Linked DNA regions of Homo sapiens: regions 2, 3 and 4 are each reported to be linked to region 1. The links are microRNA targets in miRTarBase. Many come from high-throughput screens and were not tested one by one. Region 1 holds a microRNA gene; each other region holds the end of a gene's coding sequence. Distances are from middle to middle.
What was found. The annotated mature microRNA hsa-miR-3156-5p reads AAAGAUCUGGAAGUGGGAGACA and lies in region 1 at 5,362-5,383, shown strand. An mRNA with a match to its seed (bases 2 to 7 or 8) in the 3' UTR can be bound and repressed. Matches are read on the target gene's strand: a 7mer-m8 pairs with bases 2 to 8, a 7mer-A1 pairs with bases 2 to 7 and ends in A, and an 8mer does both.

Region 1 (7,790 bases):
TCTATCACAGCTTTTCAACTCTACCATTGTAGCATGAAAGCAGTCATAGATAACATGTGAAGAAATAGGTGTGATTGTACTCCTATAAAACTTTGTCTAAAATCCATTTGGTAAGCTGAATTTGGAATTCCATAACCATGGGTTGTGGAATACAACAGTTTGCATTGTGTCCCTTAATTGAGGGACCACGATACCAAGTCTCCACTAGCTTTAAGCAGCTTTTTCAATACTTTCATATACTGTTTCTTTTGTGCTGATAATTGTTGTCCCATGATGAAACCCTCGCCTGAACAATTTCCCCCGAACCTGGAAATCCTGAGCAGGCACCAATGACTTACTCGCTGCCTGTGCAGTTCTTTTCACCTTCATATTTGAGGGTTCCATCACGATCCTTTTGCATAGTTTGTCTTGCCACCTGCCGGGTCCATCCCATGGACACTGACCTAAGTGACAGATGAGAGACATATACTGAAACAGATTTTTTGCCTGTCAGTGCAGCTAAGGGGTTCTGCTGCCTGAGTCTGCATTCTTGGCCTCGATAAGCCTGCAAAGTTCACATTTATTTAGTACAGATTAAATGACAAAACTGTTGAGTAAACATCACTAGAGGGTAATTAAGATTGCCAACCCCCAGTACAAAGCAATCATGCACCCTCGGATGATCAAACTTTTGTCTTAGGACCACGTGAGTAAACAAGGTATTTAGATAAACTCCTCCACATTCCCTAGATATTTGCTCTATTGCTACCAACTCAAAGTAAAGAAGATTAGGCTGTTTTCAGCCAAATCATTTACTGAAGCTATGCAACCCCCCGGCCTTCCAAGAAGGTTTGTGTCTATTTCCTATAACTATCTTTATAATTTTTTTAACCACTTTGTCCGATCCCCTACAGGTAGGGTTGCTTTTTTCCTGTGAAAGCCATCAGTTAAGAGGCCATGTCTAACTAGGAAATATAAATATAAAATAAATAAGTTTGTATTTCCAGTGGCAATGGAAAGATAAAGCAAATGCAGAAAAGAGGTACAGTTAATATGATTTAGTGATTATTGATTTGAAAAAGCTAGGGGAGAGAAGAAATTTCAGGTCATTCATAAGTTTCCACATGGGGAATGCTCATGGGGAAGGAGTAAGAAATTGTCAGGTCAACAGAAAAGTGCAAACAGTCATGGGACAGACCAACCGTTTTCTTTACATATTGAGTTCAATGAAACATTCATGTGGGATATTTTCAGTAGGTAATTGGTTTATACGTATTTCTAGCTGGAGATAGAACTCTGGTTGGAGATGCAGGCTTAGAATAATTTTATTATAATTATTAAGCAAAGCCATAGATCTCACTGAGCTTATCCATGATGCAGAAGATGTAGAATAAGAAGAAAGCCATTGACAAAATCCTGGGAGTATCAACATTTCACAGAGTCACAGGACTTGGTAAAGGAGACTGAGCAGTGGCTAATGAAAAGTAGGAGAGGAGTCAGAGAAAGTGATGTTGCAAATTTCTTTTAAATATGAGAATTTCAGCAGTAAGATTATAACTGAAAAGTCAATTGGATTTAACTTACAAGTTCTACAGTGGTAATCTGTTCAAAAGAATTATTTTAGAGTTGTTAGGTATAATGTTGATGTAGTTAATATTTCTGGAGTCCAAGAGGAAATCTCCCAAGATCCTACCTAACTTTTTGCAACTAAAGCAGCATATATACACAGGGTCTAGGAAATTGTCTAGACTGGGGAGTACACATGCCAGCATTTTTCCAGAATTGTCAAAACCTAAGGGTCATGTGTGAGGAAAAGTGTTGTCTTTTTTATCTGCTTCTTGTGGAGAGTGGAGATCTGTATTGTTTCTCTCTCTCTCTCTCTCCCCCTCTCTCTCTCTCTCTCACACACACACACACACACACACACACACACACAAGTACAGTAATTCATCCTTATCCAAGGCGTGTATTTTCTAAGACACCCATTGAATGTCTGAAACTGTGGATAGTATGGAACCCTATACATCCATGCTTTTTTTCTTCTATAAGTGCATATTTGTGATAAAGTTTAATTCATAAATTAGGCACAGTGAGAGATTAACAGGAACTCATAATAAAATATAACAATAACAATATATTGTAATCTCAAAGTTAGGTGAATATGGTCCCTCAAAGTGTCTTGTATTGTACTCGCCCTTCTTTTTCTTGTGATGACTGTGAGATGATATAATGCCTATGTGATGAGATGAAGTCAGATGAATGAGGTAGGAGTTGTCATGTGGTGTTAGGCTACTAATTATTTCTTGCTGTCTGACCACACATCAGAAGGAGGATCATCTGCTTCATGTGACCCTGGATCATTGAGCCATGATAATGTTGATGGTTGGGATACAGGAACAGACCATTTTGATGACTAATGGGCAGATAGCATATACAAAGGGATGATTCATGACCTGGATGAGATGGAACAGGATGCCTTAATATTTCATTGTACTCCTTAGAATGACACATTATTTAGGACTTATGACTTGTATATTTCTGGAATTCCACATTTAATATTTTTGGACTATCATTGACCATGAGTAACTGAAATCACAGAAATTAAAGAGACCCAGATTTGCAACTGGTGTGTGAGGGAAGTCTTGTGAGACTGAGCACTCAGTCTGTGGGATCTGAGACTATTTCTAGATAGACAGGGTTGGAATTAAATAGAGGACAGTCAGCTGTTTTTTTCTACAGAATTCATTGCTTATTTGTTGGTGGAGAAAATCCTCCACACATTTGGTCGCAGATGTCTTCTGTTTTAATGATTTTGGTATGAGAGCAGAGGGAAATCATGTTGTGTGTGTTTCTTTCTACACATACAGCAGATAAGAGACTACTGTATACTCTGTTCTAACTGCTTCTAGTCCATTTGTCTAGAAATTATACTTTCTAAGTTTGACACTGTCCACTTATACTAATTCTGCTAATAATACAGTTTTCTGTCAGTCTTATAGGGTTCTGTTTGGATGATGACTATTGTACACTGTAGTTCACTTGCAGAGATCAAATTGTGATAAATTCCATTTTTCCTTGCATTTGAGAACTACAAAGGAGGGGAAATAAGCATTCTTAATGCATTAATTTCCTACCAATAGTATACTTAATAATAATTTTACTATAGTCTCAACGTATGGTCCCAAAAGAATGCTTTGTAACAAATCATCTGAGTCTTTGTAACAAAGTGTCAGAGTATTATGCTTTTTAAACCAAGACCTTAATCATGCATGAAAGTGTGCGTGATTCTTTTAAGTTAAGTTGAAGTCTTGCAATGTCTCCCAGGCTGCTTTCAGACTCCTGGACCTCTCAGATGATCCTCCTGCCTCACCTTCCCAAGTAGCTGGGATTACAGGCATGTGCCATCGTGCCCTCTTATGTTTTTAATATTCTGTATTTTTTATTTATATTTGTTGATTTAATGTATTTTACTCTTTTCTTTAATAGAGGATGTGAGTTCTGTAGAGTCCACATTCAGGTAAGACTTTGCGGTTTTTTAAAACGTATATGTTAACTCAGAAAATATAGAGAAAAGAAATCACTATCTGCTGAGTATTCTACTCTGGGCTAGACAACGTATTATGTGCTTAATATTTATCATCTCACATAGTCATCACACAGCTTTGCAAAGCATCTGTGCTACTGTCACCTACTTTGTATTAATCAGGCAAATGTGATTCAGAGAGGTTGATTAATTGGCCTATGATGTCATAGCTAAAAAGTAGCTGACCCTTGAGTTTGCCATCTGCTTACCTTGCTCCCTAATCCCTTCCCTTCCCCCTTGGCATAGATTGATGGAGACCTGTGGATCACTAGGATCAAGGTACAGGACCAGATGGGATCAATTCACAAAGTCACATTTTGTTATATGTTAACTCTTTTTAGAGATTTCCCATAGAACATTGATTAATCCAAGACTTTGTTCTAACATGTTTAACCGTTAAAGTGGTAACCAGTACCTTGTTTTTATCACCAACGTTTTTAGAGCAGATCTTACTTAGCTGTGGCCACAAGACATAGGCTTTTGTTTCATATGCAATACCAGGTAAATCCTATAGATGGATTATTTCACTCTTAGTGGAGAATATCTACATATAGATATGTTAATCATATTTAGAGGCTATTTCTTATAGAATTCTCTATTTACTGACTTCTTAGTTTAGTTCTTCTTCAAAGCAGTCCCCTCTTAGTTGCATGCACTCTTCATTTTCTTTTCTAGAGTCTTTTCTCTTCTTTCATGACTTATTTATAATCTTTTCCTGATTACTTTCTTCTCTGCTTTCCTTGGTGTTCTTTTCTTCTATTATTTTATTTCTTTCTGCCAGCCCCATTTTTCTATAGCTAAAATTAAAGCACATGGAATTTTAGGATTTTAAGGACTCTTGGAGACTAATCAAAATACTTTCATATTTTAAACTCTATTTAATATCCTGGAAAAATTGTTGTTCACATGGAGAATCTGAAACTCAAAATGACTTATTTAAATATAAGAGGTAGCAGAAGTAATATTTAAACTCATTTCAAAGCCCATTACTCTTGTTTTTATATCATCATGTAAGTGAGTGTTTGAATAATAGAAAGGAAAAGGGGATGGATCTGATTAAACAAATGGAAAAGAATAATGGAATTAGCTGGAAAACCCAGTAGAAGTAGATAAGAATGGAATTATCAGGGAAAGGCCAAGTTTGAAGAGAAACAATCCCAGGATTGGTAGGAGTAAGGGTTTTACCAAAGAGATCAGAATATTGGATCTTATGACAAGTTTGATGAAGATAAATTAGAGGACCAAAAACACAGAAGACATTGGGAGTTATCTAGAAAGGCATACTAAAATAGGGTTCAAAGAAGTCCTGAATAGATTGCTGCTTTTTTTGCTTGTTTAATTGGAGGAATGGGCAAACTTCAAGATTTCTATTGAAAGATTTAGAAAAAAAGACCAACTCAGAAAAGTCTCCACAATCAGAATAGAAATGTCCTATTCTGTTCTTTCACCCCAAATCTCACAGGAGTGGCTTAGAGCCCCTTCAGTGCTAGGGGATTGAAGGTTGCTGAATTACATAGATCTGTGGCCTAAGGCAGGTGTCCCCTCCCGTTTGCCTCTTTTTCCAAGCCTCTGATGTCCTACCCATGTACATGTAAAGCAGGGGGAAGATTGGCTGTCAAATTAGTCATGGAGCTTCAGTTGGGTTTTTGGTAACATGACTGAGACTCTGTTTAGTTGTTTTTCAGGAACAGGTAAATACAGAGCTTATTGGTTGGTCATTGAGTTTATCTTTTCAGTAATCTGTGCTTAGATGAGCTAAATATTTAAAGGTTGGAGACTGCCATGAAGCTCTGCAGAAGAAAGATCTGGAAGTGGGAGACACTTTCACTATATATAGTGGCTCCCACTTCCAGATCTTTCTCTCTGTATATATAGTACTTAGAGAAATCCAACTATCAGGACTCAGTTTTTCTAGCAGTCTCTCTCCTTGGGTATAAGTACCTACGAAGATTTTTAAGGCTTTGCTAGTTTATGTAGACCTGAACAAGGAAGGAAAAGTATAAAATAAGTAGTTAGACTTTCTTACTTTTAATGTTTCAATTTTTGTGAGAAAAATATTCCCAATAACAAATATAGATTTGTATTTTGACATTTGTAGGTTCAGCTTTTCAACATTTCAGATATTTCAGGGCACTCTCTTGTAGCGTTTTAGGGTGAAGGGAAGCAACAAGGCCTTTTTAAGTGGTTTTTATGCTGAAAAACAAAGAATGTCATTTTCCAGTGACACAGATTAGTCTTTGAATCAGAGATAGACAATGGATAAGGGACAAGGTAACTGTACCTTTCTTCCTCATTTTAGGTTATCAAGTTTGTTCCAGTTTAGATATCAAAAGTTATGTCAGCCATTAAGTACATTTTCAGTTCATCATAGAGGACAGCTTGTGAGGACTAATTATACTCAGGGTATGCCAATTATATTGGCGGTCACTATTTTTTATGGAACTAAGAGTGAGTGTTCATTGGATGTTACAGGTTGGAGAGATAGAGTCAAAAATAGGTAAATGCAATCTTTTTTAAAAACAGAGGGGCCGGGCGCGGTGGCTCACGCCTGTAATCCCAGCACTTTGGGAGGCCGAGGCGGGCAGATCACGAGGTCAGGAGATGGAAACCATCCTGGCTAACACGGTGAAACCCCGTCTCTACTAAAAATACAAAAAATTAGCCGGGCGCAGTGGCGGGCTCCAGCCCCAGCTACTGGGGAGGCTGAGGCAGGAGAATGGCATGAACCCCGGGAGGCAGAGCTTGCAGTGAGCAGAAATCGAGCCATCTCACTCCAGTCTGGGCGACAGAGCGAGACTCCGTCTCGGAAAAAAAAAAAAAAAAAAACGAAAACCAGATGGCATATTTTAATTATGCCAAGAAACATGATTTAATATATTGAGGACTGATCTTTCCCCAGATTTTGTTTTTTGTTCTCATTTTTTGGAGTGAGCACTAAGATATGAACTGGCAGGTTTTCTTTTTAAATATATGAATTTGCTCATTTTTGTTTTATCTTTTTTCTCTAGTCTTTTTGGCAAACCGACTACTGAAAATTCACAGTCTACAAAAGTTGAGGAAGACTTTAATCTTACTACCAAGGTAAAATAGTCTCTTGTTAAATTGATTTTCTCAGTTGGAATCTAATTCTGTATAGTATTTACTTTTCATGTTTAGCAGTGGTGTATGTATCATAATTTCATGTTGGTAATATAAAGTTGGTCACATAAAAACATTTTATAGAAATATGAGTAGTTGATTTAAACAGTTTTTTTTTTGTTTTTTTGTTTGTTTGTTTTACTTCAGTAAATAACAAATGATTGGTAAATACTCTGAGGGTGTGAGGGCCAAAAACCGGAATGGGCTGTAGAAATACATAGTGACAGGAACATTATATTAGAAAAAACTTTTCCACAATAGAGAATATATAAAATCTGGTAAAGGTTTCTTTGCATAAGTAAACTTACTGTGACTTTTAAAATTATTCTATTGTAACTTTAAAAACACCTCATCCTTAAAATTATCTTTAATGGATCCAGTTACTTATTACAGTAATCAAGGAATCTGTCTGATAAACTTCAGTTCTGAAACTGTGCCACATAGCATATAGGTTTTTTTGGCGCATATTATTTTGATATCATGTAGTTTTTAGGAGAGAGCTTTTTATCAGTTTCTCTTCTTGGTTCTTTAATTAAACACCAAAATAATATTAGAAATTGTGAAAATTTATTTGGGCATGATGGTGCATGCCTGTAGTTCCAGCTACCAAGGAGGCTGATGCAGGAGGATTGCTTGAGCCCAAGAGTTTGAGACCAGTGTGGGCACATAGCGAGACCTTATCTCTAATTTTGAATATAATTTAGAAATTTAGAAATGTAAATTCTCTTTCTCAGAATCTGTATTATTAAGGCATGTGAGGATGTTTTCTAAGTTATTTCATTAAAAGTATACTTTAAATTCTTCAACTAAATGAAGAATGCAGGTTTCACCCCAAGTAAAAAACCAGTTCTGGAAGCAGAGACTCTTAATAAGCATATGGTAAGATTTTAATTTCAGAGTTTTTAAATTGCAGTTTTTAAACATATTGTTCAAAGATCTTTGATCACATTTGAAAATTTTAAATTTCAGAAGATTTTGTATTTAGTTATTTAAATAATCGTTTTGGAGCTCTTGCATCACTATGAGATACTGCAGGTTAGAAAACATACTTGTGTGCATCCTAGTGTACCCAGAATACAGTCTTGCCTGT
Region 2 (7,790 bases), not on the chromosome of region 1:
GGAAAAGGAGGGGGAGAGGGAACGGGAGTTTTAAAGCCAGAACGTGAGATGAAAGCAGATTTCTCCCCCTCTCCCTTCTTAAAAAAAAAATGCATCCCAACCTTGTGGTCTCATCCACGGAAACATTTGAGAAGGAGACGAGCTCTGATTTAAGTGGTCTGGGTCCTCGCCAATATTACCACTGGACGATTTACAGTCAGGATATTGTACCAGCTCGGCCTCTTGCTGGGTCGTAAAAATCGGCTGTCTCTGTAAGTTATCGTATCCGTAAAACTTCGCGGGCTCCCCGTGACAGGCAATCCCGCCGCAGGGGGGAGGTGGCGGCGGAGGCGGAGGATGCGGAGGAGGAGGGGGGGCGGCCTGGTAGGCAGCGGCCGGGCTGCCCCCGCCGGGGTGGAAGTACTCCTGGCCCCGGCCTTCCCTACCGCCGCACCCAGTCCCGGAGGGCGGCGGGGACGGGTGCGGGTGCGCGTGCGCCTGCGGGGGCGCGTGCGGGAAGCCGGCGGCGCTGTTGCCATAGAGCTGCAGGGCTGCTGCGGCGGCGGCGTGACGGCCGCCGACCTCGGGCGCGAAGTGACAGTCGTAGTAAGTGGGATTGATGGCCTCGCCCGCCGCCGCCGCCGCCGCAGCCGCCGCCTTGTACTTGGAGTACAGCGGGTTCACGAAGTACGAACTCATTGGGGCGTCAGCGGCGGCGGCCCCGGGCGGGCGGGCGGCGCTAAGCAGCCAGAGAGCGAGCCTCGACTCGGCCGCACTGCCGCGGGGGCCTGTGGGGCGGCTGCTCTCGCCGCCGGGACCGCCGGGCTACGTCGCTGCTGCCGCCCGCCCGCGCTCGCGCGTCGCTTCTGAGGCCAGGCAGCCGCGGGCGCTCAGCTACTGGGCGCTCATGCCCGGCTCTTGCGCCCGCCGCCTCGGCTTCGCGCCGCCTCCCTCGCGGGTCGCGGGGCCTCGCCCAGCCCCCGCGCGCCGCCGCCCTCCCGGCCTTTCCCGGCGCGCCCCGGCTCGGCCGCAATATAATCGCCGACGCCCCAGGCGACCTGCCCCGCTGCCTCCACTGTTTCCTCTCAGGCACCAGTGACTGAGCGCACCCGGACAAGAAAAAAGTGCGCTCGGCCCACGGGGACACTCTGGCCTCGGTTTACAAACCCCGGCTCTGGAGGGAAAAGAAAAAAAACACCCTCTGCCCGCCGCCACCTCTTACCGCGCCCCCCCCGCGCCCCCCTCCCGCCAATCTCGCCCCCGCCGCCGAGGCTGCCGACCCGGTGCGCACCGGCGAGGCATTTTCGCACCACAGCACTGCACGGAAAGTCAGCGTGACGGGGACGAGGAGCCCCGCGGAGGGATCCGCGCGCAGTTCAGTCGCTACGGCCGACGGACGGAGCGCCGCGCCCGGCCCGAGATGCCTCCGCCGGCCTTAAAGGGGGCCCATAAAGACGCACTGCCAAGGGCTCCGTGTGCCCCGGGGCCGCGGGAATGCGGATCGCAGCCGGCAGGGAGGGGCCGCGGCGGAGCCTTAGACTTGGGGGAGCCAAGGAGGCCACTCCCAGGAGGCTGCGGAGCAAATGACTGCCTCCCCGAGCCCCTGGCTGCAAAAGCAGAGGTTGCCCGTGGCTTTTGCAGCTCTGGACACGCGGGTGCAGCCCAGGGAACGTGGACAAGAGGTGTTGACGGACCGGACCGTGCATTTGAGTTGGGGCATATCGAAGTGGTTTAATTAAAAGCCGCGAGTGTGGCCCCAGATCCTGGCGTTATCAAAGCAAATCAAAGCCTTTCTTTTCCAGCCGAGCGGGCCCTGTGGAAATGAGATGTACATTTACCCTTGACGCACCGCAAGCCTGGCCGAGGCTCTCAGGTTAATTGATATTTAATGGAAATCATGCCCATGAATATAGTTTCCATCATTTCACCCTTGATAGACGTCAGCCCTGGGCGCAGGGGGAGGCTGAAGAATGCAGGAGGGGGCATTAGGCTTGCTGAGAGAGTAAATAGAAGAGCGGACAGAAACGTTCTGAGGCGGGAAAAAGGGCTCGCGCTGGGGAGGGTGACATTTCCTCGGGCAGGACGCGGCTCCCGGGTCTCAGCCCCGGCGCGCAGCGAACCAGGGCCGGCTGCGGTTCCCGGAGGAGTGCGGAGGGCAGACGACCGCAAGTTCCCCCCAGGAGCCTCCCAGCCGGCGTTCAGATCGCGCCGGTTCCAGGCAGCTGCAGGCGGCCCATCTTATGCTAACGATCCTACTTCCTCCGCCAAGCCTGTGAAATTACTGCCGAGAGAGCGCGCAGGCCTCAAAGTTACGAATTTTTCCCAAAGCAGAGAAAGAGAAGGCTCAGCCTAGTTTGTGAGCAGAGATGAAGAAAAGTTGCCCGAGTCATGTGGCCCAGTCGAGTGTGAATCGACAAAATATTCCCGATTTTAGCAGCTCTCTCCAAAGCTGTCTGGCTTTACCCTACCAACCGCCTCCCCACACACTTCCTTTCCCTCTCTGCTCCCGTTTCAATGTCCAATAAATGCAATGGTTCTCTGTTGTGTGTGTGTGTTTTCCCCTCTCCTGCTCGGCCTTTCTCGTGGGCTCTTTGGGTGACTGAGCCCCGTTTCCTTCGGGATAGGTACAATGTCGTGAGGGCGCCAGGCCCACAGCCTTGGAAATAGACCTCCAAGGCGCCCCTGCTCAAGCTAAACGCACCACGCCGGCTTTCCACACCAAATGCAAATTTCCGAAAACCCCAGACGGCCTCAGAGATGCTGCAGGCTGGCGAGCGATTTCAGCTACCCCTAGCTCCTTGTGGGTTGGCCCAGCCTGCGAGCGCGATCCTGACTTGTGTCCGGGTGGACTGAAATATCATTTTTACAAATGGAGAAAATGAGATCGAGATGGACAGACATAGCAAGGTGATAATGTCCGACTCAATTATTTCTACTGGGAATGACTGAAAGGTAAAGGAATCGTTAATGAATCTGGAGATGACAGAGGCATGCTTTATTTAATTTTTAAATTAGTAAGGAGTGCAGACTTGGGGTGGTGGAGAGCAAGGGTTTTTTTGTTGTTGTTGCTGTTTGTTTTTGTGGGGTTTTTTTTCTGCTGGTTATTGCCAAGTATAATGACTTTCTTTAAATCCGAAGGCGAACGAATTGATTCTGACAATTAAGGATTTGTCCTTCAATCTTGCAAATGCCCAATTAAAAGATTATTATTGTCAATAAAGCCTTGGAGCTACCTTTGTAATTGTGCCCCTTTTTTTCAGTTTGGCGTGTGTGTGTGTGTGTGTGTGTGTGTGTGTGTGTGTTTGAACCCTGGATAAATGAGTGGATTTTGGAATGGAATGGGGGGGGGGAAAATGAAAGAGCCTGGATCTCAACAATACCAGGCATCTTGTAGAACTGTGTGATTCCTCGGGGGAATAAAAGAAAAATGAACACTAGAAAATTCATTTATAGACATTCAGGCCAAATTTAGAAAACGTTACAACATTTCCTCTTGGGACAAAACAGTTTTTAACATTTATTTAAGCATTCCGTTTATAATATGAGTAGAAAAAGAGCGCGATTAACTTAGTAAGAAAAGATCTATGCTTTTTACAGCTTTCTGTTTTGATATAATACATTAATTTATCATGTTTTATAGTTTCAGCTGTGCCACAGTCCAAAGTTTCTGAAGCCATGATCGAGCCAAAATTTTATGCCCAGCAAACACAGAAATTAATAGTACACCTTGTTTATTTTTGGTTAAAATTATCCTAATTTCGGATTAAAAATAAGATTGTTAATATTTTTAATCAAAACCTTTCTCCGCCGCAATTCCAGCTTTACGAGATCAGAAAGTGGAGCAACAGCGCTCTCTAGTGGCCAAATGCCACCTCCAGTCCACTGAATTTAATTTTTATTCATCTCAAACCAATTCTAATCTCGTTCTTCAATTTGGGGCTTGGACTGCTGACACTAATAATGCTTCATTCCTGTGACTGTCAACAAGTCAAGAGCAGCAAGCAGGAGCTCCTGTATGCCTAGGATATTCTAATCAGTGCTCCCAACAGCTTCCAGTAGTGTCTTTTCCAAAAGCTTCCAGCCCTTCTTTTGCCAGACACCAAAAGTCCCCATGCTGTAACCGCCCAGCTGTGCCTTTTAAAACAATTATAGGACAGGCTAGATTTAACAAAACCTACAACTTTCTAAATATCAACTGCCAAGAGGCTTTTTATTTTCCAGAGGAACCAGACACTTTGGCAACCAAGAAATTACAGAAATCAAGTATTGTTATGTTTTTGTTTTTCTCTTACAGCTGTTACTTTTAGGATTAAATCATGAATATTTGCTACTTTAACACTGTAACTTTAATGCTTTGGGGCCCACTTAGGTGGCCGATTTTGGGGGGAATCGAAGCCAAATCAAAAGCTTTTTGCTGGATCTCTGAGTGGCTGTCTGGAAAGTCCCTTTGCGCTTCTGTTTGTTGGAATTTCTATGGACAATAAATGGGATTTTAAAAATATATATCAAAAGTCATTGAACTAAGCATTCCACTAGAATTTTTTTTAAAAGCAATGACTATTCAATTGGCTTAAGTGTTTCCTGTTAGGTTAATCTTTTTACTCATCTTCAAAACTGCTTTCCTCCAGTTTAGGTGTAACAATTGTATTTTTTTATAAGTGAATAGACATAAATTTCAACAACATTTTGCTTCAAAGTTTGGAGTGGAGGGCCAGAGATTCTTGTGAATAGGCATCTAACTTCATCTTTTCCCGCGAACCACACTTCTGGGAGACTCTCACCTGGGTAAATGACCTAAGATCACTAACCACCCTATCCCCAGATAACAGGCCAATTTTTTTGTTTGTTTGTTTCTAAAGAACCAGCTAAACCGTGGTCATAGTCAAAATATTGTAAAATGCCATCTCCTTAGGCTACTTCCATTACCTGGTTCATTTCAAAAATCAGAAATTCATTCACCTCTTCCTTCCTACCTCTTTCATGTTTACTTCCTAGGTGCTCACACCTCACCTGGGGGCTCCCATGCCCCTGCCTTCTTGGTCCAACGCAGTCTTGTTTATATTTTATTGTCTAGATTTTAAGACCCAGTTTTGTCTGCATTTTTCCTTTTCTCCCACAAACACAAACATCAAAATGAGATGGTTTCAAAGCAAAGCACTGGGCCTGTCGTAAACTCATTACCTCCAGACGTCTGGCCCGCTAGATGGCTTTATGACACCTCGGCTCTTCCTGTTTTCAAAGAGCCCTAGGTACCCAGCTGGCCACAGTGGCAGGGGTGCGCAGCACCTTCTGCCGGATCTGGGCCTTCCTTGGCTTTCCCTCCCAGCCCCCCTATGCTTTTTCTTCGCGTCCCCTCTTTCATTGGGATCCCCCAAGATCTCTGCCACCGCCCCCACCTTCCACCCAGCTCAGGCCACTTGGCAGTGCTGCCTCTTTGGCCTGCAAATGCTGTGCTCACCCAAACCCTCACTTACAATGACCTTCATTTTAGCCCCTGAATGCAGCCCTCAGAGGGCCAAGCTGGGGGCTAAACATACACAGAAGCTGGGTGGGGGGAAGGGGGCGGTGAAATGGAGGTGGCTGGGGAGGAGAGCCTTGACCATTTTGATCGCTAAGGTCACTTTGGGGCTTTGGTGGGGAGGAGCAGAAGCTCACAGCCTGACCAGCTGGGACCTCCCGGAGCCAGCTAGCCCCACCGAGCTGGGACAGTTGCTCCAGAGTGTAGAGTTGGCCTTTCCCTTGTTTGGAGAGGGGTTTGGCATCTGGGGCTTCAGGAGCCCAGGGAAGGTTAGGGTGCTGTGTACCCAAGCCCCAGCCTGAAAGTGCCTGGCTTCTGGGGCCTGCTGGCTCTTCTGGGCGCTTCTGCAAGGCTAACACTGGGCCCAAGCACAGAGTTCGTGGAGGACCTTGAACCAGGCTTGGGGAGGCACCAATGTCCCCCCACAGGGTCTGTGCTGCTGCATCTGCCTACACAAAGGGATGTGAGGCAGAGAAGGCAGAGACACATCAGAGAGATCTGTCAGGTGGAAGGGCCCTGAATTTTTAACAATGTCTCACTCCCAGGGGTAGAGGAGAAATATCCTGAGTGTGATATTTTGCAGAGAGGCAGAGAAAGCAGGCACACAATGTTTAGGGCCAGCGTCTGGGCTCCATTTGATCAGGTCAGCATTTATTAGTAGGAAGCAGTAACATTTACAACTGGTCCTCGGGCAGGAACCGGGAGGGCCACCACCCGCGGCCGCCCACGCGAGCCCAGCCTTCAGGGGAGAGAGCAGCGCGTCCAATGCACTGAGGACAAACCCCAACCCGCCCGAGGCCCTGGGCTCCTCTAAGCCTCACTGGAGATCTCCACCGAGGTCCCGCGTGCTCCCTGAGGAAAGGGGGCTTTCGCAACTGGTGGGCAACCCCGCCGGGCTTCACCGTGGGCTAGCAGCCGGGGTGTCCGCACTGTTGTCGCTCTGCCTTCATTCTTGGAATTGGGGCGCACTTGGCCCCTGTTTGGGCAGTGCTGGGGGTGAGGGGACTAAACTACAGCACTTTTCAGAAACATGGGGGACATTTACACAAGAGAGGGCTCCCCAAGCCAGCTTGCACTCACAAAATATAGCATTTCTTAAGGAACCAATGGAGCAGGAAAGAGAGGGAGTGGGATAGGGCGAAACCCCAAAGCCACTTGGTTTTTCCAACACGTAAACGAGCAAATACAGAGTCCCCCAAATACCTCAGAGACCAACCACACAGTCACTTCTATCTAAAAAGAAAAAAAAAAAGAAGAAGAAGTCCAAGTCGCTGGAGAGTTTCTGGAAATCAAGCACCAAACACCCACAAAGGAAAACAGCAACAACAACAAATCCGCTGCCCTTGAGCGCTCCCGCCAGCACCGCGCCGGGTCAGTCTCCTTTGGGGCATTTCTCCTTGCTCATCTTTTTCATTTTCATCCTACGGTTCTGAAACCAGATTTTGACCTGTCTCTCTGTTAGGTTGAGAATCCTGGCCACCTCGTAGCGCCGGTCCCGGGTGAGGTACATGTTGAAGAGGAATTCTTTCTCCAGCTCAAGCGTCTGGTATTTGGTGTAGGGACAGCGCTTTTTCCGGGTGGAGCGAGCGTGGATCCAGTTCGCGGCGGGGTTGTCTACAAAGAGGGAGGTTTGGAGACGGGGAGAGAGGAGAGGAGGGGAGGCAGGGAGAGACCACAGGGTGGGGAAGAGAGGTCGTTAAATTAATTTCACCAAGGATGGTCGCTTTTCACAACTTGTGGGGAATTATCATAAAAAGCCTTAATGCTCGCGCTCTGTTTACCGTACTAACTGAGCGCCCAGGGTAGGTGGTTATGGGAAGCTCTTTTTATGGATGCATGTTGTTCGCCTAGGCTTGGGTAGGCGTCTAGACGTTTTTATAGGTTAGTAAAACTATCAGTTTTGCACATTCGAGCCTTACAGGTTTCAGCAATAAATCAGGGGGCAATTTCTTTTGCACTTACTTGGGTCAAGTTGCTGCTGCTGCGGCTGCGAATGCTGCTTCTCCTCCTCCTTCAGCGAACAGCCTGGGATCGGGTGGTCGCTGCAAGCTGAGGGCTCCGACGAGCCGCCCGTCCCAGTCGCGGCCCCGATCCCTGCCCCAGGCCCGGTTCCCCCCGTCGCCGCTGCCGCCTTCTCCTGCAGGAACGAGTTGCACGAGAACTCGGGGCCGCTGCTCCCCTGGGACTCCCGGGCCACGGAGCACTCAGTCCGTTTGGAGGAGGAGGATAAGGAAGTGGAGGAGGAGGAGGTGGTGGAGGCGGCCGTGGCGGGGGCCGGGGCCGCTCGGGTTTC
Region 3 (7,790 bases), 42 Mb from region 1:
TCTGCTTTTGCCCAAGTGAGCTCAAAACCAGTTGAAGGACTTATGGACTGAATATTAGGTTGGGTTAACATATTAATATAGAAGATCAATGGACTCTTTACTGAATAAATATTTTTTACACCTAATTTTTATGTACCTAAATTTTGGTTTGTCTGAGGTGTAATATAAAGACTTAAGAATGAATAAAAGAGCTTTACGTTTGGGATGACAATCCATGTTGGAATGTTGAATTTCTTCTTTTTTACAGAAAATACACATTGGCAAGTTGAGAGTTATCAACCTGTGAAACAGTATGCAGATTTGTGTCTTCTGTATCACATCTGCTAGAAGTTTAATTTTTAATATTTGTTTTTGTTTTCTTTTGCTTAATCTAATAGCTTTGTGTTTTGTGTTTCCCAAGTAATACAATGATCAATAATGCTCTCAGTGTTTATCAGCACAAAATTTACTTGTGATAGAGATAATGCCAGTTCCCCTTCTAGTGGCTCTTAAAACCTGAATTTCTTACTCTTATCCACATTCTTTTATATGAAACTGCCTTTTTATCATCTTGCTACCTTGTGAGCTTTCTAACATGGTGTCTTTGGACCAAAGGGGAGTTCTTTTAAGGTACTAGAAGTGAGTTTTCTTAGGGTGGGAAAAACATTTCTAGGATTGTGTGATTGGGATTTCAGTGGAAAGCTTTCAGGTCTCTCATGAATGATGTTGACCCAGCTATGTTATATTTTAGACCAGACATGTACTGATGACCTTTATGAGTTTTGCTGGTATAGATACTGCCATTTAGAATAGAATCAATGTAAAATACGAAAATTAAATATATAAATGTACACAGAAATCTTTCTACACAAACATACATTCAGTATTTTGCAAGTAGGTTTCTTTCAAGGCATTTTTGCCCTAAGAATACATTATCTAATGATAAACTGTAAGTTGTCAGTACATTTCTCAATTAGAACATAGTTTTCAAACTCTCCTGCAGAGAATTTGTTTTCTAGATTTGTTGGTAGAGAACAAATTTTTATTCTTCACATTTTTATGCTGCCACATATATAGCAACCAGAATGTTTTTTATAATCCTCCAGTAGAGGATTTTTCTAATCATTGACAGAAACAAGGTTTATTCATTTCATTTTTAATAGTACTCTTAAAGTAACCAGGATCTTTTTCTTAAACCAGAAAAAATTAGTCACTTTTAATCTGTTTTCATTGCATGTCAGTGTATTGAGGGGGAAAGTCTGGAAATTTGCTATATTGGGCATGAAGGACATGAGTTTAACATACGCTTCTAATTCCAGATTCTTTTGTGATCGACATTTGATTTCTAACTATCTAAAAATAGTATGTCAAATATGTTTTACTCATATAGCATCATTTTTTAAATTAACTTCTCTAAACTTTCAACCTTGTTTTTAAAAATTGCTATTTAAAAAAAAAAAAAAAACTGTGTGAAACCAAAAATAGCCTGCATGTGTTTTATTTTTAATTCCTTGTGGCTGGGATTGGAGGGGAGGTCACAGTTTGCTTCAACAGTGAAAATACATTGCATGCCAGAAAAGATCCAAGGATAAAAATTAATACCAAGGTTTTAAACTGATTATTAGTATTTTTAATAACTCATATTTAAAATCAATAGGATGTACATATAAACTTATTTTTGTTTTTCTAGGTAGTTGGCAAAAAAGGAGAAAGCCACTAAGGTACAAAAGACACTGGACAACCATATTGCAATCAGATCTACAGCTCCTGGATAATTGCTTGATTCTCGCCAGAGACTGTCAATGTTTCATTCATTGCCATTACCAATAAATCATTGCTTTTGTTCAGATGGTATCACTAGTGTTTCCATTGTAATCTTGACACATGCAATTGTAAATAAAAGTCACCACTTTTGCCAAGCTTAATTTTTGTCTTTCTAAATCAGTATTTTCTCTTTCCATGTATTTGAAAACTGGTTAACTTCTGATTTTAGTAGAGACTTAAGTGTCTGGTAGTATATTGATTGAAAGCCAGTTTCTTTAGAAAAGGAGAAACTGTTCTAGGGAATTAAGAAGTACATGTGTACACATTCATGGCAAGTTATTTTGATAAGTGAACCTGGAACAGCTAACCATGTTAAATTATTACTGCATTTTTATTAAAGGACATTTGTATATCTGAGCTATGGAAATTACTCAAATTATAAATTAGAAGAAATAAACAGGTTTAATGAGATTTAGCTACTCTTACCTAAAACTTAGCTAATGGGTCCACAGATTCTTTCTTGGTATATATCAAGATTTTAATCTCTTCTGGTAAACTTTAAAATTTGAGTCAGCCTTTTTTTTTTTTTTTTTTTTTTTAACTAATAGAAGAATGTGGAAATCAGACAGTTGGGGAAAAAATACAGCATAGTGAATTCAGAAAACAGGAATTGGCCAGGTGTGGTGGCTAATGTCTGTAATCCCAGTACTTTGGGAGGCCAAGGCGGGCGAATCACCAGAGGTCAGGAGTTCGAGTCCAGCTTGGCCAACATGGTGAAACCTCGTCTCTACTAAAAATACAAAAATTAGCCAGGCATGGTGGCGGGTGTCTGTAATCCCAGCTACTTGGGAGGCTGAGACAGAAGAATCGGCTGAACCCGGGAGGCAGAGGTTGCAGTGAGCTGAGATTGCGCCATTGCGCCCCAGCCTGAGCGACAAGAGCAAAACTCCGTCTCCAAAAAAAAAAGGGAATTATTACCCTTAATCAAGTATTTATTACCTGAACTACCAAAACGTGCAGTGTAAATATACAGAGAACATGATTTAAGGTTGAAAATGAGGTGCTCAAATAGAAATGTTTAAAAGGTCTTTCACAAAAGGCTGGTAAAATACCTATTCGTTACCTTTTTTATCTTAAAATTGTAATCTAAAAAGTATTGGTAGTTTTAATTTTAAAATTTCTGAGTATTTTGAAAACTATTTTTAAAGAGTACATAAGACTGTAAAATTGTGATTCAGTTAAACATTTGAGGGCATTCTTGTCTAGGAATATGGTAGAGATACCATTTGCCTTTGTGAGAGCAGTGTGTTTATACTTGTTTATGAAAAAATTCTACAGAAGTTTTAGTGTTGAAAGAGTCCCTTTCTGAAACCCAAGTGTCATTAGATAGTTTAGTTCATTTGTATATGGGCACATTAACTGGTCTGTGATGATCTTAACACTCCTTAAATAGACCATCTCAGATTAATCACATCTGAAATTAAGGATAAGATTAATATGCAGGGTTTTGGTTTACAGTTTTGTACACTTAACCTTTCTGAGTAATTGTTAAAGTGCCTCATCCTAAGTATTGCTGACCTTTTCCTATTTATACTTGATAGTTTGAAAACCCAGTGAAACAAATTTCGTATTTGTAAAGGATTGGACATCAGATTTATATTGTCTATGTGACTCTTCTATAACAATTAGTTGCAGTATGCAAGTATTACATAATTCAAATTGTAAATAGTGAAAAATGAACGTTTATAGGTAACTATAACGTTTCACTTAATGGGAAATCTTACTATTATAAATGTGCATAATTGGCATTTAAAATATCAAACTGAAATGCTGTTTTCTCCTAAAACAGTATATATATATACACACATATGTATATGTAACATTTATATATAACACTGAATTTTCCAGATGAATAAGAGCATTTGAAAAAATGTAACTCTAGTTATTTTAACTGAAGTTATTTATTAGTGCATCTAGAAAACTGGTATTCAGTTTCTTGTTCATTTTGTCGGACATAGCAAAAAAGAATTTCATGATCTCTGTATTTTGATACATTGACATCAGGTGCTTTTGATGAGAAACAACAGTGAAATATCGTGTTCATAATAGAAACGAAAGTCAGGTATTGCAGTAGGAAGTCTTTGTCAGCTTAATGCTGAAGCCAAGAGTAGCACAAGGTACCACATTCTTGTGCCCACGACAGGCTTTTATAATCCTTCTGAGTTCTCTTTGACATCAAGCCCCACGTTGTTCCCCAGTCTCAATATTCTGTTGGAGGCAGCCACGTAACAATTAGAGTTGAAACCTGCCCCACGTTGTTCCCCAGTCTCAATATACTGTTGGAGGCAGCCACGTAACAATTAGAGTTGAAACCTGCCCCACGTTGTTCCCCAGTCTCAATATACTGTTGGAGGCAGCCACATAACAATTAGAGTTGAAACCTGCCCCACGTTGTTCCCCAGTCTCAATATTCTGTTGGAGGCAGCCACGTAACAATTAGAGTTGAAACCTGCCCCACATTGTTCCCCAGTCTCAATATTCTGTTGGAGGCAGCCACGTAACAATTAGAGTTGAAACCTGCCCCACTTTGTTCCCCAGTCTCAATATTCTGTTGGAGGCAGCCACGTAACAATTAGAGTTGAAACCTGCCCCACATTGTTCCCCAGTCTCAATATTCTGTTGGAGGCAGCCACTTAACAATTAGAGTTGAAACCTGTCTGCCATCCTTTGTCTCAATGTTTGAGGATGTATGCAGTGTTTTTGGCAGCGATTATAGGAATGCAGTTGTTTATTTGGCCTCAGCAGTTTATTTATGGCTGCAATTAATATCCCTGATCATGGGCTTTTAAACCTAAAATAGTTCAGATCCTCCCTTGTTCCTCTTAATGTCTAAAAGCTTTGATTCTGTAATAAGAATAAAGTGTTGGAGTTGAATAAATTAGTTACACCCTTTGTAAGCTTTAAAAACATGAAATTTAAGGCTTACTCATGTTGCTTGTATTGATACTCATATAGTTCAATTTAGTAGGTTAATTTTTGTGTTAGGTATATCTCTTCTGGAACTGATAATTTGTAATCTTAGACTATTTTTTTTTTAAGATAAGTAACTTAGAGTAAGAAATCCAGCTGGGAACAGTGGCTCATGCCTGTAATCCCAGCATTTTGGGAGGCCGAGGCGGCTGGATCACTTGAGGTCAGGAGTTTGAGACCAGCCTGGCTAACATGGAGAAACCCTGTCTCTACTAAAAATACAAAAAATTAGCCAGGCATGGTGGCAGGTGCCACACCCAGCTACTTGGGAGGCTGAGGCAGTAGAATCGCTTGAACCCGGGAGGCGGAGGTTGCAGTGAGCCAAGATCGCATGACTGCACACTAGCCCGGGCAACAGAGTGAGACTGTCTCAAAAGAAAAAAAAAAAAAATCCATTCACAGAACTGCTAAAGAAAAACTAGAGGAATATTTTGCTCATTTAGCTTTAAAACTCATTATTAGAGGTGTGTATTTTACAGTTTTGTAAATATAGATTATGCTTTATAATACACATAAAGCAAGTATATATAACATGCATATAGTAAATAAATTTTAAAATATTGACTATTCCCCAGTTAAGCCTATACTTCTTAAGGAAGACTACTGATGTCATTTTAAGCATGTTTCAAAATTCAAGTTTTATTTTTGATCAATAAGGTTTTTTTTTTTTTTTAACATGCTCAGCACTATAGGAATAAGAGGACAGTGGAGATTTGTAGGCTAATAAGATCGCTTTTAAACTTTGTGGTCCATGTAAAATTATTAGTTGGAGAATGTGTAATTAGAGAACTATAAGATAAAGAGATAACCTTTAGAATTTGAATGTACTAAAATTGTACACAGCTTGGAATATTAAAATCTTAAGGATATGCAATGTTAAAACTGCTAGAGTATTTTTCCTTCGTGCTTGCTATGCTTCTCTATGGGAAGAGGAATTTTATTTTGGAATTATTTCTAAGTTGAACAGACCAGAATTAATTGTGAAAACATGATCTGTTGGTTTATAATTGGACACGCATTTGGAGATACTGGCTCATCATACTACCTAGGAGCAAAATCTCTGAAGTTTGAATCCCTGCTCTTCCACTTGTTAGCTGTGTCATCTTGAGCAAGTAACATCCTTCAGAGCTCAAATTTCTTCTTGTGTAAAAATAGGAACATCTATCTCTTAGACTTGTTCTGAAGATGCGCCTTACTTTGTATCTGGAACAAGGATAAGTATCTTCTGTATCCTGCTCTCAGCTGTCACTGCTTTTTAGGCCATCATTACTTGCTTGGCATACTGCAGTGCCTCCTAATTGTCTCTTTGTTTCTGCTCTGGCCTCTCTCATGTATCCCCCACATGGCCGCTGGTTCTCTTTTCTTTATGGGGTCTTTGTAATGTAATCTCTCCTCCTCTAGCCTCCCCATGCCCCTCATTTCTCCAGTGTGCTGTGCTGTATTACCAGGTAGCAGAACGTACCCTAATATCGCATGCCTTCCTCTGACCTAACTTTTCCATCTGACCAATTCCTACTTATCTACAAGGCTCAGTCCAAGGAAAACTGATACCGGGAATAATCATAACAATTGTGCACGCCTCCTCAGCTGCTATGACACCTTGCCATTATTTCATCCGGATACTTATCAAGCTACTTGTAATGATCTGTAGTCTTATTTGGACTACTAGATTGTGAGCTGTAATACAAGTATTTTGTCTCTAGTATTAAGCCAGTTTATTTGGTTTCTATCATTAAATACAATGTTGAAAAAATTCTCAGGGTCCAAGGGGAGATGCTTGGGTTGAGTCAGAGATAAAGTAGGAATATGCAGTTGAGGAAGGTAAGGAAGATAATTTAGCTGAAGTAAAGGAAAAGTGCATAGTGTGTTCATAGAGTGGGAGTTAAGTGTAAGAGACATTCTAGGGAAGTGAAGGAGAAGCTGAAAGAGCAAGTAGAGACGGTAAGGTGAAGCTCCTCTTGCCATGTGAAAGAGATCAAACTTTCTCCTTAATTTATGGGAGGAGCGAGCATAGAGAAGTCTGTGATGTCTCACAAGGTTCTCACTTTTACAATTGAATATAGAAGTAGCTCTTAGGAGAAGCAGAACGTTCAGAGGGGAAGATGAATATGGTTTTGGGTACATTGCCTTAAATTGCATTTTTGGTATTTGGGTGGCGATGTCTAGTAAGTAAAAAGCCAGGAATGTGATTTTAGAGCTTAGAGCTAGAAGCAAGGAACTAGGAGTTGTTTAGATGATGAAAACTGAAATATGTATATGAATGGGAATTTTTAGAATATAAAGGGAGAGAATGAAACTAAGGAGCAAATGTTAGGGAATCCTAAGAAATATTAAAGAATTGGGAAAAGAGGAACCTGGAAGGTAGAGTAGTAAACAGGAAAGGGAGGAAAAACAGGAGGTGGTAATAAAGTAGTGTTAATGAATCCAAGAGGGAGCAGTCACCATCTTCAAATGTGATATTGAAATTAGCTGGGATGTCCAGTTGTTTAATCCATTAAATTGTGGAAACAGTCTTTCTAGTGCTTAATTATAGGAATCATTGATCATATTAATAAACTTTCAGTTGAAGCATCAGCAGATAATTATTCCAAAACCCTCTGGCAAAGAAATGTAGATGCTTTTATAGTCTACCATTGAACACAGTTTTACATGACACTTGGCAAAACTTGGAGATGGATGGCACTATTTTGTAAGAGAATATGAAACACTGCTTTGAAGTTGTCATTAAAGGATCTTATCAGGTGCTTTTTCTCTTGTATTTTGTTTATAAATTTTGTCCTATCTGTCATTCTAGTACTGTTTTTCTTGATTGCTTTTGTTCTCTTAAAAGTTTCTAATTTCACATCACAAAGATGATTCCTGTTAGAGTCCTGAATGGGTCATTGAGTTGCCTTAGTAATAAGGGTTCTAATTTTGGGGGGCATTATCAAATATATTAATTGTTAATACCTGCTCTTCTGGGGTTTCCAGTAAAAAGGAACTCCTTCATTAGATCCCTGTAATCTCCCTGTGACAAA
Region 4 (7,766 bases), not on the chromosome of region 1:
TTGAGGTTATTCAGATTTTTGTGATTAAAGGATTAGCCTTTTGTGACTTAAAGGGAAGATAACATACTAAGTAGTTTGTACTGTGGGCAGTGCTCCATGTACGGTCTTAGTGAAAATAAAGAAATTTTGCATAAATCTCCACAGAAGTACTCAGCAAGCAGTTATGACATCAAATTGGGATTAGGGATGTTGGAGGTGGGGGTGTTCAGTAGTTTAATTTCTGGTGGGGACTCATAAACAGCTAAATACAGTTGCAACCCACATTGCAAGTGGTATACATTGGAATGAGGGTCTTTGAAGTTAAATCCTTAAACCATGATTCAAACCATTGCTTAGCTTATTTTTGAGGTTTTTAGCTAGGAGTAAACTAGCTTTGTCTTGGGCTTGATGTACTTTTAAAAAAATCCCTTACTCAGTCCAAATGAGGATGAGAGGGTGAAAGGACCCTTTATTTAAAAGAATAGGGTCAGCCACGAAATAAAAATGTCTATGAACCCGAGTAATTTATCTCCTGAGTAATTCTGCTAACTGGCTGCAAAGGATTAGGATCTGCTTGTTTAAAAGACTGGATGGATATAAAATAGAATCAACTGTAGTGTTAGGCTGATCATGGGAAATCAAAGTAAGTTTGTTTTCTCTTGCTGTTCCAACAATTATAGGAAACTATGGTCCAGGAGGCAGTGGAGGAAGTGGGGGTTATGGTGGGAGGAGCCGATACTGAGCTTCTTCCTATTTGCCATGGGTAAGTAGCTTTTGAGTTTTACAATTATTATTATCTTGGGAGACATAGCTGCAGGAGTAAAAGCTTTTTAGGATCATGTTATCTTTCCTTAAAATCTGGTTAGATGGATAATTTCATAACCTATTTTTTTTTTACTCTTTACTTCTGTTGAAACAGGCTTCACTGTATAAATAGGAGAGGATGAGAGCCCAGAGGTAACAGAACAGCTTCAGGTTATCGAAATAACAATGTTAAGGAAACTCTTATCTCAGTCATGCATAAATATGCAGTGATATGGCAGAAGACACCAGAGCAGATGCAGAGAGCCATTTTGTGAATGGATTGGATTATTTAATAACATTACCTTACTGTGGAGGAAGGATTGTAAAAAAAAATGCCTTTGAGACAGTTTCTTAGCTTTTTAATTGTTGTTTCTTTCTAGTGGTCTTTGTAAGAGTGTAGAAGCATTCCTTCTTTGATAATGTTAAATTTGTAAGTTTCAGGTGACATGTGAAACCTTTTTTAAGATTTTTCTCAAAGTTTTGAAAAGCTATTAGCCAGGATCATGGTGTAATAAGACATAACGTTTTTCCTTTAAAAAAATTTAAGTGCGTGTGTAGAGTTAAGAAGCTGTTGTACATTTATGATTTAATAAAATAATTCTAAAGGAAATTGTGTAATTATAGACTTTTTATTTTAAATAAGTTAAGGAGTGGGTAGTATAATTAAGGTCCGTTGCAAAGCTGTTGTTATATTTGTATAAGATAAATGCTGGTCAGATGTAAGTGTGTTGTCTGCAATTCATCAGGATTAAATTATGTAGATAACTTAAGGGATATCTCTGCAAGGAGAAACACCTTTTTAGATCTTTTAGATGCTGCTTCTTCAATGCAAGGAAAGGAAATAACCCCAGCGAGGTACTCTTCAGGGACACAGGTCTAGTACAAGAGAACTCTTGACGGCTACTAAGTTCAGCCAGTCTTAAAAAACTGTGCTGTTTCTACAAAACTTTAACTACAGTAGTTTATAAGGATGCCAACGAAAGCTGAGGGTGTAGAGCAAAATAGTTCTAAGCTTCAGTTAAACTTCTTTAGGTAAGATCTTATTTACTTTTCCTTTCTTAATTTTCCTCCCTAAAAGATAAACTAATACTCTTAAATGGTCTTTCAGTATAGTGGTTCTTACGTAGTTTAACATAGCTATAAATTGAGTTTAACAATTTATAAACTCAAGAGAATAATTTTTATAAACCCTGTTTTCCAATCTGTCATTTACTTAAATTATTTTGGTTGTTTTTCCCTTTTTTTCCTTCTTTTCCCACCCCCTCCCCCTCCATGTGAAGATTTGGGTGCTTAACATATCATTTTTTTCCCTGCCGGAATTTTAGCATTGATATGAACCATGGACAAGTATATTCTGCTGCCACAAAGACTGTAAAGTGCTTCATTTCAACAGCTGAGGCAAGCCAAGTGATCATTAATAAAGCTTTTCTTGGTTCCTTCAGTGGTGTTGGTAGTAAAATGGTAGGTAAAAGTTAGGCTGCAAGTTCAATAAATCATGAGATTTCCCATCGTTACACCCTTGTGTATTCACATTTCTTGGATCAAACATTTTGAGTGAACTAGGGGTTTTTATTAAAGACATTTGTTGTATTTATGGTTGTAACTGTACATGCTTATCAGGATGAGACTGAAAGAAGGTAGGGCAAAAATGGTTGAATCTATTTTCAGATAGTAGTTCATACTTGAGTGAAGTGTCTTGTCTGCATTATGAAGCCTGGTATGTATCCAGTACTAAATAGGTGGGTTAAATGTGGTAATTCTAGTTCAGTGTCTTACCCTGAAGAGAAAGTTGTAGGTTGGCTGTTGAAATTCATTCCTTAGATATGATCAGTTTGATTGCCCGGCTTTATTGCCTTTACAGGAATGTGATACTCAGGGCTTACTCTATACACCAATGAGTCTTCTTTGATCCTAAGACCACCACTGAAGTTGTTTAGGTTCTTTTGGACAAACATGATAAACTTCTTCAGATACTTTTTTTTTCCTTTGGCAGGAAGGTGTCTTGCTGCAGGTAACTAATGAAGAAGTGGTCAACCACAGAGTCTTCAAGAAATAAGAAATTCTGTACCATCTGAAAGTAGTTCTTGTTGGTGCCTTCATTTAAAAAGCACTCTTTAAAATAAAAGGGAAATGTTTTCTGATAAAACAAACATTTAGTTGAGGTTCTTGATATAAAACAATTACAAAATGAGTGTTGTTTGTAAAACAGTAACATCAAATTGGCTAGAGAGATAAATGTATCATGTTTTAAATTAGGTTTTGTGAGTAGACAGATTACAATTCTATTTTAAATATAAAGTTTATAAAATAAATACTTTTTGTATCCAAATACTTGGTGTAATGTTTACACATAAAATGTGTGAATCTTGTTCTATAAATATTTGGTTGTCTAAAAGATCACCATCCCCTAAATTTTTAAAAGCAGTTTCACAAAGCTATGCATATTTTAATATTAACAGGTAAATGAGAAGAGCATTGTGGACATTATTGGCTGTCCCCAATAAAATGCTGTTCATTATGCACTGTATATTCAGCGTTTGAGTACTCCTAAAGTTTCTGGCTTTACTTTTACGTTTAGCAATACTGGTGGCATTTTGAAAATCATGGATTTTAAAGGTTAACCGGCTGGAGTGGTCCAGATTAAGTGGCTTTGCAGAAGCACTGAGGTTTACAATATGTGCTAGATTGTCAAATGTCAATTAGTTTTATTGTGGTTTACACTGAGTAAATGAATATCAGTGTTGCTTTTTAAATGTGTTTATTTGGACATTTATCTGAATTAAGAAAACCAAAAAGACCAGGTTAATTTGTTTCTATGATAATTTGTTTTGGTTTTGATAATGTGAGGTATCTAACAGGTAAGTCAAATTTAACAGCAGGTAACACATAGAAAGCAGCTTTCTGTTTGAAATAGCTGAGTTCGTCAATTAAAGACGTACAAATATCCCAACTTTAAGAAAATTTTGAAGGTTTAAAAATGTGTGGATGTACAAAGACGTTGAACTTTGAAATACATCAGGTTGATATGCATAACCTCAAAATACCAACTCCTATCCAGCCAAGGTCAAGGGAATATCACACAAATAGGGGAGAATTAGGTAATTGCACAATAGACTGAAATGAACTGATTGAAGGAGGGTTTACTGAAGCATGGGGGTAATGTTGGATATTCAACATAGGCTTATTTCCTGTGTGTATATGTTGTGTTGAGCTGTTTCTCTTGTAGAAATTGAAGTTTAAGGTAGTTCTTGTGTAGCTTTGAGACAGTGCCCTAAATGAAGAAAGGCTGCTTTTTGGCCAAGGCTTTATATTGTTGCTGTGTAACAACTTACCTCAATACTTAAGAGCAGTTCAGAGAAACAAACCAGCATCTATGGGTCAGCAATTGGGAGCAACTTAACTGATTCTGGGTAAAGCTCAAGGTTCCAATCACAGAAAACTAGGATTGGAGAATTTTTTTAATATCCAGAGTGGCATACTAACAGCTTTAAAGTTAATCCTGGTTGTCATCTTCCCTCGGTGAGTGATTTGAGCAAGAAAAGCTGTAAAATGAACACGCTCTACGAAGTAGTCGTGCTATCTTGCATCCTTTATGGTCACAGAATGTGGTGGGAGGGTTCTTTTCCCTGGTACAATTACCAAGCAGGCAGGGAGCATTGGGAACTCTCAGATGCCAGCTGTCACACTCAAGGGGGTGCCCTTACTCAGTTTATTCACTAGTGTGAAACCAGATTTCTGTATGTGTAAGCTTTTCCATGTAGCCCAATTTGGTAGATGCCAAATTGCTTGACCTAATAAATACTAGTTAGGCATTGGGAGCTAACAATGTAAGGCAACAAGTCTCAGTTTGTCACTGATGGTTGAAAAGTGGAAAACATCTGTCAGGACACCTGGACTGCATGTTACATAAATTCGCTCTCTTTAAGGTTTGGAACTAATATACTGAGATGTTGACAGGCCCTACATAATTTTTGACATTTCCACTATTTAGTAATGCACTAACACTGGCTTGTTTTGGGGTAGTGGAGGGGAATTGGTAACAAATCAGTTGAGTTGCATGGACTTAACAGAGAACAAATCGTTCAGAGACTGAGATGGGGAATGATTTAGCTACTTGAGTGCGTTTAAAAGACGTTAATATTACCACACAAAACCCTGTATACTGGTTCTGAAGCTCTGCTGAACCGAAGCCTACCTTGAGACCAGGGGACCACTAGAAATCTAGGTCTTTTTTTGCTTGGAGTTGCCGTACAATTGGCCTAAAATCTGATCACACTTGTGAAGATGCTCAAGTGATAGTTTTAATTGGAAAAGGAGATGTCCAACCCACTTGGGTTGTCTTTGTTCTTGTCTTCCTCATTCTGATTAAGACGTTAGATGATGCAATCAAGACTGCTCAACTAGGTAGGTAATGTGGAGGGTCCTAGGCAATGGTCAGCTTTCGGGCATTGGCTTTGTAATCTAGTTGGTTTGCACTGGAAGCCGAATGTGGAATTCCCTTCTGCCTCTAAAACTGGACTGTCAGAAAAGCAGTTGCAGTTTATATACCTTGAATCCAGCATGTTAAGATGGAGGCAGGGTTATGTCAGGAAGCCAGCCCATAGCCAATTAGAGCTTGTGACGCTGGCTGCTTAATGCGCCGATTAAAAGTCCCTTGATGGGAGAGGGGCCCATCAGTTTCAGGAACCTCCACAATACCAAAATGTGGATGCTCTAGCCCCCTTGTATGAAACGTGTATTTGCACGTGGTCTAAGCACATCTCATACACTTGAGTTGTCTAGGTTACCCAATATTTAATCCAAGGTAGAAGCTAGGTAAATGGTATGCTGCATTATGTATGGGGAATAAAGTTCAGTACAGACACTACCATCTTTAAATATATTCAGTTTGCAGTTACTAGATCTGTGTGTGCTATATTTAAGGGTTTTTAGAGTTTAAACTTCAGGCCAGGCATGGCGGTCCATAATCTGAGCAGCTCGGGAGGCTGAGGCAGTCCAGGAGTTTGAGGCTGGATCTTTTATTGGGGCCACTGCACTTCAGCATGGGTAACAAGAGTCACCATGATTACCGATTCTGCTCTCCACTGTCTTTTATTTTAGAGGTTTGAAAAGAATGCTATCTGATAAGCAGGCACTCTTTTGAGTGTACTTAGTAGGATTTCCTACTGAAATGTTTTATGTGTGTTCTTAAATTATAATTATCAAAAGCTTAAGACATTTGAAATACTCCCTTGTAAAAAGCAACAGACTAAAATGATCATTTGAACACCATGAGTCACTGAAGGGGCAATTTTATCTAGAAGCATACTAGAAGCATTTCTGGCAAAATAACAGGTCTTGGGAAACTTTATTATAAAAATCCAACGGTATATATAAACTGCATTTCTCTAGCCCAAGATACTTATGTGATACTCTACACTGTAGCTCCTATGGCAGAAATAATATCTGAGAAACTTCATTTTGAAAATTTGGACATATTAAGCATTATAGTACCCGTCAAAATCTTGATGTTCCCCAAACTTGAGTCATCTAGGTGAGGTCATTGCTGTCTTCAAAAAATTCAGCAATCTCCTGTTTACTGTTCTAGTGAACTTAAGTGAGGTTTTCATTTCAAATGCTATTATTTCTAGAATTTACCTTACCCTGGTTTATTTTCAAATTCACCTGTTTTTTTTCCCTTAATCGCTTTTGCCCATTTTAAACAGATGGTTTCACTGTTGCTGACTCTTTCCCTACTGTTTATATGGCTTACAGTGTTCTGGTGAGATCTCAGTATTCTAAGATGGTGAGGCCATCCCTTCAGGCTGGCTTTACTGCCAGAGATTTTATGGATTTAATATACACACAAGGAGTTACGTTTTTGCAAGTAGCCCATTCTGTCTCTGGTTACATGAGGAAGGCCTGTGGCTCAAACTACCAGTGACCGTAGGTCTTCAGTGCATTCTATATCACATAGTATTCTGTGTGTTAAGTATTGGGGTAGGGGGGTGGATTTGCCTTACTATGGATTTGGCATACTATGTTGACCTCAATTTGGCTTGAGTCTGAGCAGTTTGCTATGCTGCCTTATTTGTTATTCACCTATATTCCTGAATGTGGATATTTTGGAAGGAAAGTAAGGTAAATTTGGTTCAGATTCTGTATAAAAGGGAAAAGTTAATTTTTAATACAAATACAAAATTTATTTCCATAGAAAGCAAAATTTATAAGTTAAATATAAAGATTAAAATAGTGTTTGAAAAGCTCACTATAGTGCTAACAAACTAAATGAAAATAAGGCTATTTTGCATTTAAAACTGAAATACCTCTTAAAATAATTTGATCCCCAGTGTTTGCTCTTTTTGAAGTAACCAACTTACTCTTAAAAAGGATGGCTGCCAAGATGGAAAGTCTTACTGGGTTTTCATGTTAACCTATTCTTTGGACATAACTATGAATTTTGTATACAATGCACTTCATGAAAAGTTGTGGCTCCCCCAGATTGCCCACAAGTGTGATCTTGAAGTCCTAAACATTTGTCCATGTAAGCTTCAAAACAGCGTTAACTGAGTTATTCAAGTAGCAGTACTTAAAGATACAATTCTTGAAGCAGTTTCAATGGTTTCTGATCCAAATAATCAGTTTCTGAACATTACTACTTCACATAATAGAGTCCATCTTCAGTTTCTTCTCACTTTCTCTTTCCCTTTTGGGTTTCCTTTTTGTGGCCTGAGGCCACCAGTTCTTTGGGTACTATCAAGATACTTCCATCATGGGTACACTGGAGAGCATAGTGGTTGGGATTGACTGGCCTACCTTGGTCATCTCTTAATCTACTAAAAATATCATGATAAAGGTCATGCAGTTTCTGTTTCATTATGTTAATAGCTTTGTTACATTGTGCTTGCTCTCTCTTAAGAGTTTCCTTCTTTGCTTGCAAGTTACATACATCATCTTCTAAATTCAAAATTATGTCCAATTTGCGTTTACGACAGTTCTGCGCA

Region 2: the mRNA of HOXD9 is a reported target of hsa-miR-3156-5p. The part of its 3' UTR that is shown has no 7-base or 8-base seed match.
Region 3: the mRNA of TXNL1 is a reported target of hsa-miR-3156-5p. Seed matches in the 3' UTR shown: 7mer-A1 at 3,175-3,181 and 7mer-A1 at 7,504-7,510.
Region 4: the mRNA of HNRNPA2B1 is a reported target of hsa-miR-3156-5p. Seed matches in the 3' UTR shown: 7mer-m8 at 1,585-1,591 and 8mer at 1,819-1,826.

Annotation. Positions count from the first base shown.
Region 1 is chr18:14,824,813-14,832,602 of GRCh38, forward strand. MIR3156-2 (microRNA 3156-2) reads left to right here and starts at 5,354; the gene lies at 5,354-5,430. ANKRD30B (ankyrin repeat domain 30B) reads left to right here. Exons shown (of 44, transcript NM_001367607.2): 33 at 3,466-3,496; 34 at 6,571-6,643.
Region 2 is chr2:176,123,255-176,131,044 of GRCh38, reverse strand. HOXD9 (homeobox D9) reads right to left here. Exons shown (of 2, transcript NM_014213.4): 1 at 7,460-7,790; 2 at 6,108-7,111. The coding sequence ends at 6,870. HOXD8 (homeobox D8) reads right to left here and starts at 1,340. Exons shown (of 2, transcript NM_019558.4): 1 at 102-1,340. The coding sequence starts at 678. LOC100129455 (a long non-coding RNA gene) reads left to right here and starts at 517. Exons shown (of 1, transcript NR_187615.1): 1 at 517-3,220.
Region 3 is chr18:56,596,936-56,604,725 of GRCh38, reverse strand. It overlaps TXNL1 (thioredoxin like 1), which reads left to right. Exons shown (of 8, transcript NM_004786.3): 8 at 1,670-7,517. The coding sequence ends at 1,699. Among named protein-coding and RNA genes, the nearest start is that of TXNL1, 38 kb to the left of the region's middle.
Region 4 is chr7:26,185,471-26,193,236 of GRCh38, reverse strand. HNRNPA2B1 (heterogeneous nuclear ribonucleoprotein A2/B1) reads left to right here. Exons shown (of 11, transcript NM_002137.4): 10 at 660-742; 11 at 899-3,310. The coding sequence ends at 721. NFE2L3 (NFE2 like bZIP transcription factor 3) reads right to left here. Exons shown (of 4, transcript NM_004289.7): 4 at 6,100-7,766. The coding sequence ends at 7,454. Among named protein-coding and RNA genes, the nearest start is that of HNRNPA2B1, 11 kb to the left of the region's middle. RefSeq lists enhancers at 4,442-4,966, 7,367-7,596, 7,617-7,666.